Homo sapiens: one gene and its partners. The protein of the gene in region 2 purifies or fractionates together with the protein of the main gene of each other region. This does not show direct contact. Each region holds a gene or a part of one and is shown on either strand. Other genes may lie near its edges.

Evidence for each region.
Region 1: the proteins of ETFA (region 2) and TPM4 fractionate together in Homo sapiens (co-fractionation; one large-scale study listed by BioGRID). This does not show direct contact.
Region 3: the proteins of ETFA (region 2) and TAGLN fractionate together in Homo sapiens (co-fractionation; one large-scale study listed by BioGRID). This does not show direct contact.
Region 4: the proteins of ETFA (region 2) and NUP210 fractionate together in Homo sapiens (co-fractionation; one large-scale study listed by BioGRID). This does not show direct contact.

The regions. Positions count from the first base shown.
Region 1 is NC_000019.10:16,093,495-16,096,994, reverse strand, and holds part of TPM4 (tropomyosin alpha-4 chain), read right to left. Parts: intron 3,460-3,500; coding exon 3,397-3,459; intron 3,312-3,396; coding exon 3,242-3,311; intron 1,732-3,241; coding exon of another isoform or gene 1,649-1,731; exon of another isoform or gene 251-1,648; intron 1-250. UniProt on the Homo sapiens protein: Binds to actin filaments in muscle and non-muscle cells. Plays a central role, in association with the troponin complex, in the calcium dependent regulation of vertebrate striated muscle contraction.
Region 2 is NC_000015.10:76,280,470-76,283,969, forward strand, and holds part of ETFA (electron transfer flavoprotein subunit alpha, mitochondrial), read right to left. Parts: intron 3,357-3,500; coding exon 3,288-3,356; intron 1-3,287. UniProt on the Homo sapiens protein: Heterodimeric electron transfer flavoprotein that accepts electrons from several mitochondrial dehydrogenases, including acyl-CoA dehydrogenases, glutaryl-CoA and sarcosine dehydrogenase.
Region 3 is NC_000011.10:117,205,167-117,207,964, forward strand, and holds the end of TAGLN (transgelin), read left to right. Parts: 3' UTR 1-830; coding exon of another isoform or gene 831-1,190; 3' UTR 1,191-1,514; coding exon of another isoform or gene 1,515-1,632; 3' UTR 1,633-1,900; coding exon of another isoform or gene 1,901-1,994; 3' UTR 1,995-2,298; downstream 2,299-2,798. Other genes in the region: PCSK7 (proprotein convertase subtilisin/kexin type 7 preproprotein), read right to left, coding at 831-1,190, 1,515-1,632, 1,901-1,994. UniProt on the Homo sapiens protein: Actin cross-linking/gelling protein. Involved in calcium interactions and contractile properties of the cell that may contribute to replicative senescence.
Region 4 is NC_000003.12:13,413,823-13,417,322, forward strand, and holds part of NUP210 (nuclear pore membrane glycoprotein 210 precursor), read right to left. Parts: intron 1-3,500. UniProt on the Homo sapiens protein: Nucleoporin essential for nuclear pore assembly and fusion, nuclear pore spacing, as well as structural integrity.

The sequences.
Region 1 (3,500 bases), on a different chromosome or scaffold from region 2:
GCAACAGAGTGAGACCCTGTCTTGAAAAAAAAAAAAAAAAAAAAAAAAAAAAAAAAAAGAGTGACCTTGTTTTCTCCATATTCCTCATGTAGGAAAAAGCATGACCTTTTATTACCCACAGGTCAACCTTAAGAGCTATTCTAAACTAAAGCAAGGTTCCTGTTATAACTAACTGAAATATGAATGGAGATTGATGTTAGCAGTCTCAGGCAATTCTGGAATTCGGGAAAAGAATTCTAAATTCACGTCTTCTGACGTCACAGCACTTTCCCTGTTCATGGAGGCCCGTTCACTCCTTGTACAGTCAGTTTTCTAAGGGCAGGGCGTGGAGGTGAACTTCCTCCCAGGACTGGGAGCTGGATGAACAGTGAAGAGTAAAGCCACGGGAAGCCCCAGTCACCACACTCACAGTGTAACACAGAGAAAAGACACAAGAAAAGGAGGAAATGGAGATCAAAATGTCACTGCCGCTGTTTGAATCTGTAGCTCAAGCCCCATTCAAGGGGAGCCTCATTTTTGACACAGGCTTGCTGGTTTTTCCAAATCCCTGTTGACTCTTAAGCTGCCTAAGCGGTTTACAAGGATGAGCCTCCATTCACAACAATTTCTATTTAAGGAAAAACCATTGGGGATGGGCGCGGTGGCTCATGCCTGTAATTGCAGCACCCTGGGAGGGTGAGGTGGGCAGACTGCCTGAGCCCAGCAGTTCAAGACCAGCCTGGGCAACATAGTGAAACCCTCCCGCTTCTACAAAAAGTACAAAAATGGCCAGGCGTGATGGCTCAAGCCTGTAATCCCTGCACTTTGGGAGGCCAAGGCAGGCGGATCACAAGGTCAGGAGTTTGAGACCAGCCTGACCAACATGGTGAAACCCTGTCTCTACTAAAAATCCAAAAGAAAAATTAGCCAGGTGTGGTGGTGTATGCCTGTAATCTCAGCTACTTGGGAGGCTGAGGCAGGAGAATTGCTTGAACCCGGGAGGCGGAGGTTGCAGTGAGCCGAGATTGCACCACTGCACTCCAGCCTGGGCGACATAGTGAGACTCCGCCTCAAAAAAAAAAAAAAAAAGTACAAAAATTAGCCTTGTGTGGTGGTGCACACCTGTAGTTCCAGCTACTTGGGAGGTCGAGGTGGGAGGATAGCTTGAGCCTTGTAGGTGGAGGTTGCAGTGAACTATGATGGTGTCACTGCACTCCAGCCTGGGTGACAAAGCAAGACCCTGTCTCAAAACAAAAAAACAAAAAAAAATTATTGGCATGCAGATGCCGTTAGCTAACAGCGGTATCTGAGAGCACATGCCCAGTTTGCTTTTGTTTTCACGTCTTCAGAAAAGCATCCTGTAGGCATAATTTTCTTTTTGTAATAAGCTTTTCATTTGTGAGTGAGAGAGGCTAACCACCCACTTTGTGTTTCAGGCTATGGTTAAGGGCACACAGCTACAGCTCAAAGGCAGCAAGTGGAGAAAATGAGAATGAGGGGGCATGAAGAGGAGGACTGCCCGTCTTTATTTCGGTTGTAGAGTCACAGACACATCAGAAGAAGGCTCTGACGTTCAAACCAGAAGGCAGGCCACCGGAGCTCCTAGAAGCCCACAGGGGCGTAGGAGGCACCATGTGAGAAGGACAGAGGGCAGCGACCTGGCTGCCTCTCAGAGAGAGGTCATGTCGTTGAGAGCGTGGTCCAGTTCCTCGCTGATAGCTTTGTACTTGAGCTTCTGAGCGTATAACTCATCTAGAGGGCGGAGGTCCCCAGGGAGACAGTTCAGAAGTACAGGGGACAGAAGGCAAGGGTCGGAATGGAGTGCCACAGATGAACCACAAGAGGAAGAAAAAAACACGTGAGCAAACAAAGCACAGACTAGGAGAAAGCTGTGTTCCATGTGAAACAGATGAAGAAAACCAAAGATCTATGGAGTTGATCTCTAAGTGGTTTGAGGTTCTGCAGGGGGATTAGCCACAATGAAGCTTCAAAACAGTGGTAACCAGAAGTGACAGAGCTTCCCCCCACTGGTCCCCACCCCTCAGTTTATTTCGGATTTCCAATGACGTCACCCTGTCCAAAGGTCGTATTTTGGAATGGGGCATTTTCCCTTATATGGGAACCTCACTTCCCCAAAAAAACATTGGAAGATATGGTCTGAAGAATGTGTCCTTTCTGGGTGGGATGGGCAGTTTGGAAGATTCCATTTGAACCCCAAGATTCTGGAATTTCTGAGGCCGAATGTTAAACACTGGAACTCTTGAAAAAATTCTGGGAGAAGTGGGCCCCAGACTTGCAGACTAGTCTTTATTGCAGTCCCTACACTTTCTGTATTTCTGTTTTTTTTTTTAAATACTATGATAAGCTTTGAGCTCCCTGGGACAGAGCTTCTGCAAAAATGCAAGGCATGTAAAAAAAAAATGCAAGGCATCTATCAGAAATGAGCAAACAGAAGGAAATTGTGAAGTTTTTTTTTTTTTGAGACGGAGTCTGGCTCTGTCACCCAGGCTGGAGAGCTGTGGCGTGATCTTGGCTTACTGCAACCTCCGCCTCCCAGGTTCAAGGGATTCTCCCTGCCTCAGCCTCCCCAGTAGCTAGGATTACAGGCGTGCACCACCACGCCTGGCTAATTTTTTCTATTTTTGGTAGAGACGGGGTTTCACCATGTTGGCCAGGTTAGTCTCAAACTCCTGATTTCAAGTGATCCGCCCGCCTCGGCCTCCCAAAGTGCTAGGATTACAGGCTTGAGCCACTGCGCCTGGCCTGAGATTTTTAATTTATTATTAATATTTTTTTAATCAGAGAGAGCCATACTCTTTTCTCTATACTTGCTCATGGGACTAACTAAGCAGAGATATTTTACCTCCTGAAAGTGGCAATTCAATTAGCCAGGTGTGGCGGCACACGCCTGTAGTCCCAGCTACCTGGGAGGCTGAGGCAGGAGAATCACTTGAACCCGGGAGGCGCAGGTTGCAGTGAGCCGAGATGGCGCCACTGCACTCCATCCAGCCTGGGAGACAGAGCCAGACTCCGTCTCATAGAAAAAAAAAAAAAAAAAAAAAAGGGCCATTCAAGCCTGAATGCTTTGCATTATCCTATTCCAGTGTTCCAGGACATCCAGATATGACATCACTATGCGCTTTACTTTCCTAAGGCAAACAAAGCCCAACCCAGCCCCTCCACAAACATTCCCCAACTGTCCGTGGATGTGTCCCAGAGGGGAAGGCAGGGCAAGGCAAACATTTAGATGGTAACCTCATACCTTCCAGGTCATCAATTGTCTTTTCCAGTTTTGCAACCGTTCTCTCTGCAAATTCAGCACGGGTCTCAGCCTAGATAAGAAGAAAGGAGTTACTATCATGGCTTCAAGACCAGCCCCAGGAGAAACCAGAGCTCGCTGGGTGCCACCACACTCACCTCTTTCAGTTTGTCAGACAGAAGTTTAATTTCTTCTTCATATTTGTCCTCCTTTTCAGAATACTGTGGGAGAAACCAAAACACTGCTTTAAGAAAAGGAGGCC
Region 2 (3,500 bases):
ACCCTGGTCCAAACTATGAGTATCTCCCACCTAGACGACTGATATAGCCTGCTAATTGATCTCCCCATTACTATACTTACCCCCTACAGCTTATTCACAAAACTGCAGCCAAAGTGATCCTTTAAAAATGTGTTAGATCATGTCATTCTTCTGCTCAAACCTTGAAATGGTTCCCCATTTCATTCAGAGAAAGAGCAATCTCTACAATGTCCTATAAGGCCCTATGTGATCTGGTCTTGTGTTGCCTCCCAATTTTATCTCTTGCTACTTTCTCTTTTGCACTTTCCATTCCAACACTGGCCTCCTTCCTATTCGTCAAATAGGCCAGATGTGTTCCTGCGTTAGACAGGCTCTGTGCACTTTACTAGTTGCTCTGGTCTGGAACACTCTCCCTCAGATCTCCTCATGGGTCGCTTCCTCACCTCCTTCAAACCTTTGTTCAGATGTCTTTTTTTTTTTTTTTTTTTTCAGACAGTGTCTCTGTCACCCAGGCCGGAGTACAGTGGCACAATCTTAGCTCACTGCAACCTCCACCTCATGGTTCAAGTGATCCTGCCGCCTCAGCCTCCTGAGTAGCTAGGACTACAGGTACGTGCCACCATACCCATCTAATTTTTGTATTTTTAGTAGAGGTGGGGTTTCACCATGTCGGCCAGGCTGGTCTTGAATTCCTGGCCTCAAGAAATCCGCCCACCTAGCTAATTTTTATATTTTTAGTAGAGGCGGGGTTTCACCACGTGGGCCAGACTGGTCTTGAACTCCTGGCCTCAAGTGATCCGCCCGCCTTGGCCTCCCAAAGTGCTGGGATTCCAGGCATGAGCCACCACACCCAGCCAGATGTCTCTTTCTCATTAAGGCCAAATCTGGCTATCTTATTTTAAACTTCAATCTTTCCCTTCAATTCTCCACCCCCCATAACCCATCCTATTAGTCTCCCTAACACTTACGACTCTCTAACATTTTTTTTTTTTTTTGAGACAGAGTCTCGCCCTGTTGCCCAGGCTAGGGTGCAGTGACATGATTTCTGCTCACTGCAACCTCTGCCTCCCAGGTTCAAGCGTTTCTCCTGCCTTAGCCTCCCAAGTAGCTGGGACTATAGGCACGTATCACTGCGCCCAGCTAATTTTTGTATTTTTTAGTAGAGACGGGGTTTCCCCATGTTGGCCAGGCTGGTCTCAAACTCCTGACCTCAGGTGATTACAGGCGTAAGCCACCACGCCTGGCCCATATTATATTATTTACTAATCTATGGTGTTAAGTGTCTGTAGTAGGCAAGAAAATGGCCCCTCCAATGATATATTCACATCCTAATACCCAGAACCTGTGAATATTACCTACGTGGCAGCAGATATATATAAAGCTAAGGATCTTGAGAGGGAGTTTATCCTGGATTATCTACATGGGCCCTAAATGCCATTACACGTATCCTTTTTTTTTTTTTTTTTTTTTTTCCAGACGGCATCTCACTCTGTTACCCAGGCTGGAGTACAGTGGCACAGTCTCAGCTTACTGCAACCTCCGCCTTCTAGGTTCAAGGAATTCTCCTGCCTCAGCCTCACAAGTAGCTGGGATTACAGGTGTGCACCACCACATCAAACTAATTTTTATATTTTTGGTACAGATGGGGTTTCACCACGTTGGCCAGGCTAGTCTCAAACTCCGGACCTCAGGTGATCCGCCCACCCTGGCCTCCCAAAGTGCTGGCATTACAGGTATGAGCCACCACGCCTGCCATGTATCCTTATAAGAGGGACACAGAAGGAGACTGAATGCAGTCCCACAGAGAAGATGATATGAAGACAGAGGCAGAGGTTGTAGTGATGTGGCCACAAGCCCAGGGATATCAGAGTAGCCACCAGAAGCTGGAAGAGGAAAATAACAGATTATCTCCTAGAGCCCCCAGAGGGAGTATGGCCCCTGCTAACACTTCAACACATCTCTGGCCTCCAAAGCTGTGAGAGAAAAACTTTGTTGCTTTAAGCCACCAAGTTTGTAGTAACTTATTACTGTAGCCAAAATAAACTAATAGCACCTAAAATAGTACCTGGAATATGGCAGACACTTGATAAATACTTGTTCAAAGAAAGAAGGAATGAAAATAAACCCTGAAATACTACCATCTGATTATACAGTGTCAATATAATGCCTTTATTCTGACAAAACTATTACTGTTTCTATGGGTACACGTGTTATGTAATAGAAATTTCGCACAGGAAAACCACAGAAAGTTACAGGAAAACCCTCGAAAGTTATATGTTAAAGTCTTAAAAGGAGGGTGAGATGACAGAATTGGGACATTTTAATATATATTCATTGTAGTGATTGTGTAATTCAAAAATAATCAAATGTCTTTAAAAAGATTTTTTTTCAAAACAGGGTCTCAATTAGGTTGCCTAGGCTGGTCTCAAATTCCTAGGTTCAAGCAATCCTCCTAACTCAGCCTCCCAAGTAACTGGGATTACAGACACATGCTACTGTGCCTGGCTTAAATTTTTTTGGTTTTTCAAAAAACATCACTCCCTTCTCATCAATGTACTTTTAGCAATAGGTTCTACCTTACCTATAAATGGTTAACTACAATTCTATATTTTTAACTACAAACTTAAAAACTTTAAATGTATTTCTATTTGTATAAGAGTTATATTAAGACCACCAAAAAAAAGATGAAAAACCAGGGTATTCCTGAATCTGAAGTAGGCACTGAAACTAACATTTCATTATTTTGTCTTTTATTATTTTTGAGACAGGGTCTCACTCTGTTGCCCAGACTGGAATGCAGTGGCACGACCACAGTGCACTGTCGCCTCCACCTCTCAAGCTCAAGCAATCCTCCCACCTCAGCCTCCTGAGTACCTGGGACTACAAGCACACACCAATATGCCTGGCTAATTTTTAAACGTTTTGTAGAGATGGGGTCTCACTACATTGCTAGGGCTGGTCTCAAATTCCTGGGCTCAAGCAGTCCTCCTGCCTCAGCAACCTAAAGTGCTAGGATTACAGGTGTGTGTCACTGCGCCTGGCCCATTTCATTATTTTTAAAGTGAAGAAAAAAGAAAACCTACTAAGATTAGGCAAAGGTAAGAGATACTAGGAGGCCTTCTCCTCACTGAATGCTATATACCATTTACTTGGAGGCTTAAGAAAAACTGGTTCAGAGAGAAAAACTGAAAAATCCGGAAAAGTAAAATAATTTGTAGGGCTGAAAGACTTACACAAAAATGAAATAATGAAGAAAAAATATTTCCAACAAAAAGGGAATATCTTTCTACTAAGGAAAATAACTTTACCTGCAGCATGTAGTTGATCTGCCAAGTCATATAACAACTTAAAGTTCTCTCCACTCTTCAAGCCTCGACCTCATTTAAAAAGATGAAAAAAAAAAATTAGGCAAACATCAAATACATTCTGGAACAATTTTGCTATTTTATATACTGGAGTAAATTTTCATATTATGTAACTGCCATATTAAGCATGTCACCTCCTCTATAAACCTTTTCTGG
Region 3 (2,798 bases), on a different chromosome or scaffold from region 2:
AAAATTCAACCAACTAGCTCAGAAGAGGGGAGAAGGCCAAGGTTGAGAGAAGAGTCACAGCCTGTCAGGCAGATAGCTGGCCTCCGGCGGGAAGGCCATTTCCCTGAGCACTTGCAGAGGAAGACAGGGTGGTGGCAGGACTGGAGTGGCAGTGGCTCCCAAGGCTCTCTCCTCCAACATGTGCATCTGCCATCTGCTCTGCAGTCCTGCCGCAGGATTCCCTAGTGAAGCAGCTCAGGCCTGGGGGAGCCGTGTGTATCCCAGCTGTGCCGGCAGCATCATACCAATCGTGGGGGTGGTGAAGGAGCCAGGGGTTCATTCATGGTTGGTTTCTGATCAGGCATCTTGGGAATGGATAATGGAGGCAGCCGCTTTCAGGACAGGCATGTCCAGGGGCTCCTCCCAGCCTCTACCCCGAAGTCCTCTTCCCAAGTGACCCCAGTGATGTTTCCATTGAGATGCGCTCCTGGCTATGGCAGGCACCTTCTCAACTTATATGTGGGAAGGGGTCCCCCATGCTTGGGGGACCTAGGCAGCTGGCTTGGCCCAAGAGAGATGAGGATGGAGGCCAAACCAAAGGGGGGCGCCAATCCCCTGTCCAACACCTTCTCACCAAAAGCTCCCGTTTGGCTGGAGGCAGACCCTGTGGCTCTGACCAGACTTCTCTGGCAGCAATCCTCCACCATTTGTATCTTAAGAAGGCCCTCACCCTCTTTGAGTGGAGTCAGAGGATGCCTCAGATTCCAGATGTAAGCATCAGAACTGCTTTCTGTCAAGAGCTCCCTAATTTTGGGAAAGAAGAGCCTGTCCCACACTGTCAGGCCCTGAGGTCAGCAGATCTGCTCCTCCTTCCCGTGCGGTACGTCTAGGTGCTGATGAGGGCAGTCCAGGGCGCTCTTGTTCTGGGACAGGCTCCAGTCCCCTTGCTCCAGCAGGTCTGGGGCAAGGAGGTCAGAGGTGGTGGGAGGGCCCCTGCTCTCTGTTTCCACTTCGTCTGGATCCTTGCTGCTGCAAAGTGGCACTGATTCTAGCTCTGTCCCTTCCTCCTTGGCTTTCCGGCTCCGATGGGGCCAGTGGCAGGGTCCACTCCTACAAACTTGATTGGAAGCCACATTCCTCTGGCTCAAATATACTTCCAGCATGTAGTAAACAGTCCAGAAGACGGTGAAACAGCCTACCAGCACCAGGGTCTGGGGCCGAGGCAAGCACCTACGTGAGGCACTGTTTCCCGAAGCCTACAGCCTTTCTCAGCCCAGGACAATGAGCTCAGAAAGTCTTTTTCCTTCTAGGGACTGCCTTTTTCACCCAAACTGTTCCCTCTGCCCCCTCCCCCGACAAGGCCTGTCCTGTAAGAGTTAGGCTAGCAGGGTAGGAGCAATGCTATGAAACCACTGCTGGGACCCAGGTCTTCCCAGTCCTTCACCCCGCAGGTCACCCTGAGAAACACACTAAGAACTCCATCCCCCAGACAGGACAGTCCCATCTACCCGCAGCTTGAGTCTTGGCCCTAGTACCTTGAGGGTGTTGGGGGTGATGGTGTAACCATCTTCCTCAGGAATTTTCAGCCCCGGTGGGCAGGGCAGGGCGAAGTCATCGTGCAGGTATTTTCCACTCATGGCACTCTCTAACAGCCTGTGGAGAAGAAAAGAGGTGAGGATGCCCCACTGACTATGGTTCCTATACCATCTGCCCTCACCCATTTTCCTGCCTTACAGGTGAAGACAGGGAAGCCCCACAGCAAAAAGGAGAGGCCCAGACTGTGAGTTCCCAGCCCGGGGCTCCATCTACCGGCTTGACGCTGGAACTGGGAAGCACAGCTGGGGTTCAGAGGGCGATGGGCTCCCTAGGCGGCCCTTCCCCTGTGACTGGCCTTCCCTCTGACACATGCGGCTTTACCCACCTTTGTCTGTCCCTGATGTCTACTGCACTCCACACAGAGCCATATAGGGTCAGCTGCCATTGCCGGAGGATGCCGACCTGGAATGACTCATCCCCTAGGGCAGCAAGGGGCAGCTCGTGAGCCACGCCCCTCTGTCAGCCATGCCAGACAGCAGAGGCCCTGCCCGCCCTGCCACCCAAAGGGGCTCAGGCCACATGGTCTGCTCCAGGAGCTGCCTCACTGTGTCCCACTGACCCCAGGTTCTGCAGAAGGGCCTCACTGGGTGCCCTTAGGGATGGAAAGGGTTGAAAGGCTGTACTCCAAAGCAGAGTCTTGCTTTTCTCTCCCGTATTTTGGGGGTTCAGCTGGGATTAGAAAAAAATGTCTTTCCACCAAATTAAAGAAAGCTTTGAAAACCACTGGCCTAGAGAATACCTAACTGACTGGAGGATGGGAGGGTGGAGCTCAATTTCCAGTCTATAGGCTGATACTAAAGATATTCACAATTCATGGATATTGTGGCCTTCACTGATATGGTGACCTTCCACAAGTCACCTCAAACCTCTGGGCCAGTTTAAAAAAAATGGTGAAATGAGTCCTGCCCTTACCTGCCTACCGGGGCTGGCCGAAGGATGGTTATACGTAAAAGGACTTGAAATGTGGTTTCGACAAGGACTTTTTGTTGCTATCCTGAGGAAAGATGGATGGGTCACTCCTCCAGGGAATATGAGAGGTAGTATAAATGAACAGTTGCAGAGAGCAATGCCCATTTCACGGATGGGCACACTCTTGGCATCAACTCTCTTGGTCCAATGGCAACCCTATATATTGCACACGGGACACTTTCTGTGGGGACTCTGAGATGCAGAGGGACCAGATAACAAGCAGGAAAGGTAGGGCCTGGTGTGAGGGCACGAGA
Region 4 (3,500 bases), on a different chromosome or scaffold from region 2:
AAAATGGTTAAGGAGGTCGATTATATGTTATATATATTTTACCACAATTTAAAATAAAAAAATATGTAAACCACATACAGACACCAGAAGAAAACTTTTATTTTGAGGAAAATTAAAGGACTGACAGTGAGTTTTGAAAGAGTGAATTTTTCTCATTCCCACTGTCGCATGAGGCCCCACTGGCACACAGAATGTGCTGGCGTCTGGCAGGCACTGCTTTTGAGGGGGTGCTCCCCACTCTTCACAACACAGGAACAGGAGGCAGGCAGGCCATAGGGGAACTCAGGGACCTGGGTCAGGCCAGAAAGCAACAGTGAAAAGAAAAGAGAAGTGAGAGTTGCACAAAGAACAAGGATGGGTGAGGGTGGTGGATGACACACGCCACCTCCCATCCACCCGCGGGGTCCAGCCCCTAACGGTGCCCAAAGGCAGTGTCTACAGAGCGGAAGCCACCTCGTGGGGCTGACAGAGCTCAGGCAGAGTGGGGGACCCACAAAGGAAGCAGGAAGAAAATCACCCAAGGCCCAAGTCAACCCAGGTCCACAGACACTTCCTGGCACTTCCCTGCTGCGGGCCTGGTGAAGGGAGTTGAGCAAGGCCCGGTCCAGCCCTGCAGGGGCCACAGCTACAGACAGCCCTCAGGGGCCAGGGAGAACGAGGCCCAAAAACCAGGCCCAGTCTAACCCTGCCCACATCTGACCTGGCATTCTCCTTCCTGTCTCCTAACCACAGCCCACAAGGTCCCACATGGCCCCGCCCTGCCAACCTCTCCACCCTCCCTCCCAGCCCTGCTGCCCTGGCCAAACGTGCTGCCTTTGCGCACTTCTGACAAGCTCTATCTCTCCTCCGGCCCTTTGCACTTGCTGTCCCCTCCAACTCAACCCCACTCCACTCCTAGTTCGACTCCCAGGAGGCTTATGCTGAGCGCCCTCCCCAAAACACATTCCATGCCTTGCAGTTCTGTTTCCTTCAGGACTTACTCCTGCCTCACATGCATCCACAGATCTCATCTTAATTAACCGTTTAACTCCGGCAATCAACTGTGAGTCCCTGAGAGCAGGGCATCTCCTGCTGCTTCACTGTCACATCCCAGGACCTCAAGTAGTGCCTGGCTCATAGTAAGAGTCACAGACAGGTGGGTGTGGTGGCTCATGCCTGTAATCCCAGCACTTTGGGAGGCTGAGGCGGGTAGATCACAAGGTCAAGAGATCTAGACCATCCTGGCCAACATGGTGAAACCCTGTCTCTACTAAAAATACAAAAATTAGCTGGGTATGTGCCTGTAGTCCCAGCTACTTGAGAGGCTGAGGCAGGAGAATAGCTTGAACCTGGGAGGTGGAGGTTGCAGTGTGCCGAGATCGTGCCACTGCACTCCAGCCTGGCAACACAGCGAGACTCCATCTCAAAAAATAAAAAGAGTCACAGACATTTGTCACCTCTTATTCAGTGACTCTCCAGCCCTCCTCGGTGAAATATGTGTCGTCCATCAGTGCTTGTCCCCTGGTGCTCAGGCAGGACGGGTCTTCACCGTGTGCCCTCTCCCAGGCCCTGCGGGAGCTCTGGTTTCTCCACCCCACTTTCTAACTGCCAGAAATGCCATCAAATAGGCCCAGATGATAACGCAATCGACCAAAGCCTGTGACTCTAAGGCCAGGCATAAGGAAGGAGACAGAGATTTGGCCTAGGTGTGTGGGGATGCAGCATGCACACAAATTGAGTGGTACAGGGGAAAACACTCTCAACGAAAAGAGCAGAAGTACAGGTGTGGGCTCAGGGAAGGCCAAGTGAAGGAGGTACAGAAGAGCAAACTGGGGGCCTCCCGTCGAATTCAACTCCCTCTTTTGGGTTGTTTCCACTTTGTGAATTTTTTATTTTGACTATGGGGCAACTTCTTACAGGCCCTGTTGCCTCACCTGTGCAAGTTTCCAGCATGTGACCTGCTGACGTGCCCGTCCCAGAGGCTCAGGGTCCCTGAGCCCAGCAGAAGCCAGCTAGGCCAGATGACACTCTGACTTGGCTCAGCGTGCATCCCTCACCCTTAGTGCCCAACTTCACCCACGAAGGCCTGTGAGGGGATTTGCTGCAGCTTCCCCTGCTGGGGCAGGGAGAGGGACCCAGGACATCCACACGCAAGGGTAGTGCTGGCCTCTGGCCTCCCACAGTCACCCCTCAGCAAAGAGGGACTCCCCAGGGGTCATCTGAACTGCCTGGGGTACAGCATGCCCCAAGGCCAAGCTCCACGGCATAGGGACCAGTGCCCTCCCTGGCCCTGAAAGGACTCCCATCTACCTGTTTGAGAATCCTTACACCTGTGACTGAGAAGTGCCCCAGACCACATAAGAGAGGGTGTACCCTGGTGCAGGACCAGGCCTGGCACACGTGTTAGATGGCTCCAAGGTGCCCAGGAGAGACTGTCAGGGGCAGGAAAGGAGAAGTCTGTGAACAGCTTGGTATGGCAGTCACTGTGCATGCTGTGTCTGGATGTTGTTCACCAGGCAGGTCCACATCCCCTCCCCACCTCAGCCAGGGGAGCTGCAGGTCGTAATTCAAAACAGAGTGTCTCCGCCAGAGGCCCGGGAGGTCGCACAACATCCCCTTCCCCAGGGGAACCAATGGCTGCCTGACAGTGGGTACAAAAGCTCAAAGCTTGGTCTCTTCGCCTGAAGGCAGGACAACCTGCAGGCAGCCTCCCTTCCCTATCCAGCTGCCCAACAGAGCACTTTCTCTGTAAACTAGGGCAGCAGAATCCTGCCTCAGGCTCCACCCCTGGGAAACCAATCTGAGCCACTCACTTTCTCCAAGACAGCGCCCCCTTGCTGGAGCACCCAGAATACCCTGGGACTCCATGACAGGGAAAGAATCAATGAGGAGGCAACTTCAACCCAGCAGAAAGGTGCTCAGACACGGAGCCCTCAGGAAGAAGCAACAGAGCAGTGCTTGGGCTTCAGTGCTAGCCAGTGTTGGCAGGGGAGGAGGTTCCCGAGGTGCCCAAATAACCAGGTTCAAGGCAATGTAAGAAAGGAGCTAGGAGAGGAAACATAAGTGACCGAAAAGAAACCAAAATGCTGCCTGTGATTGTATTACAGCTGGAAGATTATGGCATGATTTCTTTTTCGTCTGTTCTCCCAGTTTTTGATATGAGGTCGTTTTGTATATACCTTTAAAAGGAGCAAATGTAATATACTTTATGGAACACTTTCAATAATGCAAAATATCTAGAAGGAATCAGGAACTTGTCACAAAACCAGTGCTGGCTGGGTGCAGTTGGAGAGAATTAGAGCCTGGCAAATTAGCCAGAGGCTGCCAGTCCCCAGGTCTAATGGCGTGGGACAGGGAGGGGTCCCAGCAGCTCCTGCTCCAACTCAGTGTCCATCGCTACAAGACTTCCCAGAGATCACTTCCCCTTCTGGAGCTCAGGTTTTCCTATATGAAACACAGGCTGTTTAAACTAGGTGACCTCTAAGGTTCCCCTGGCCCGAAAACTGTCCAATTTTGATGTT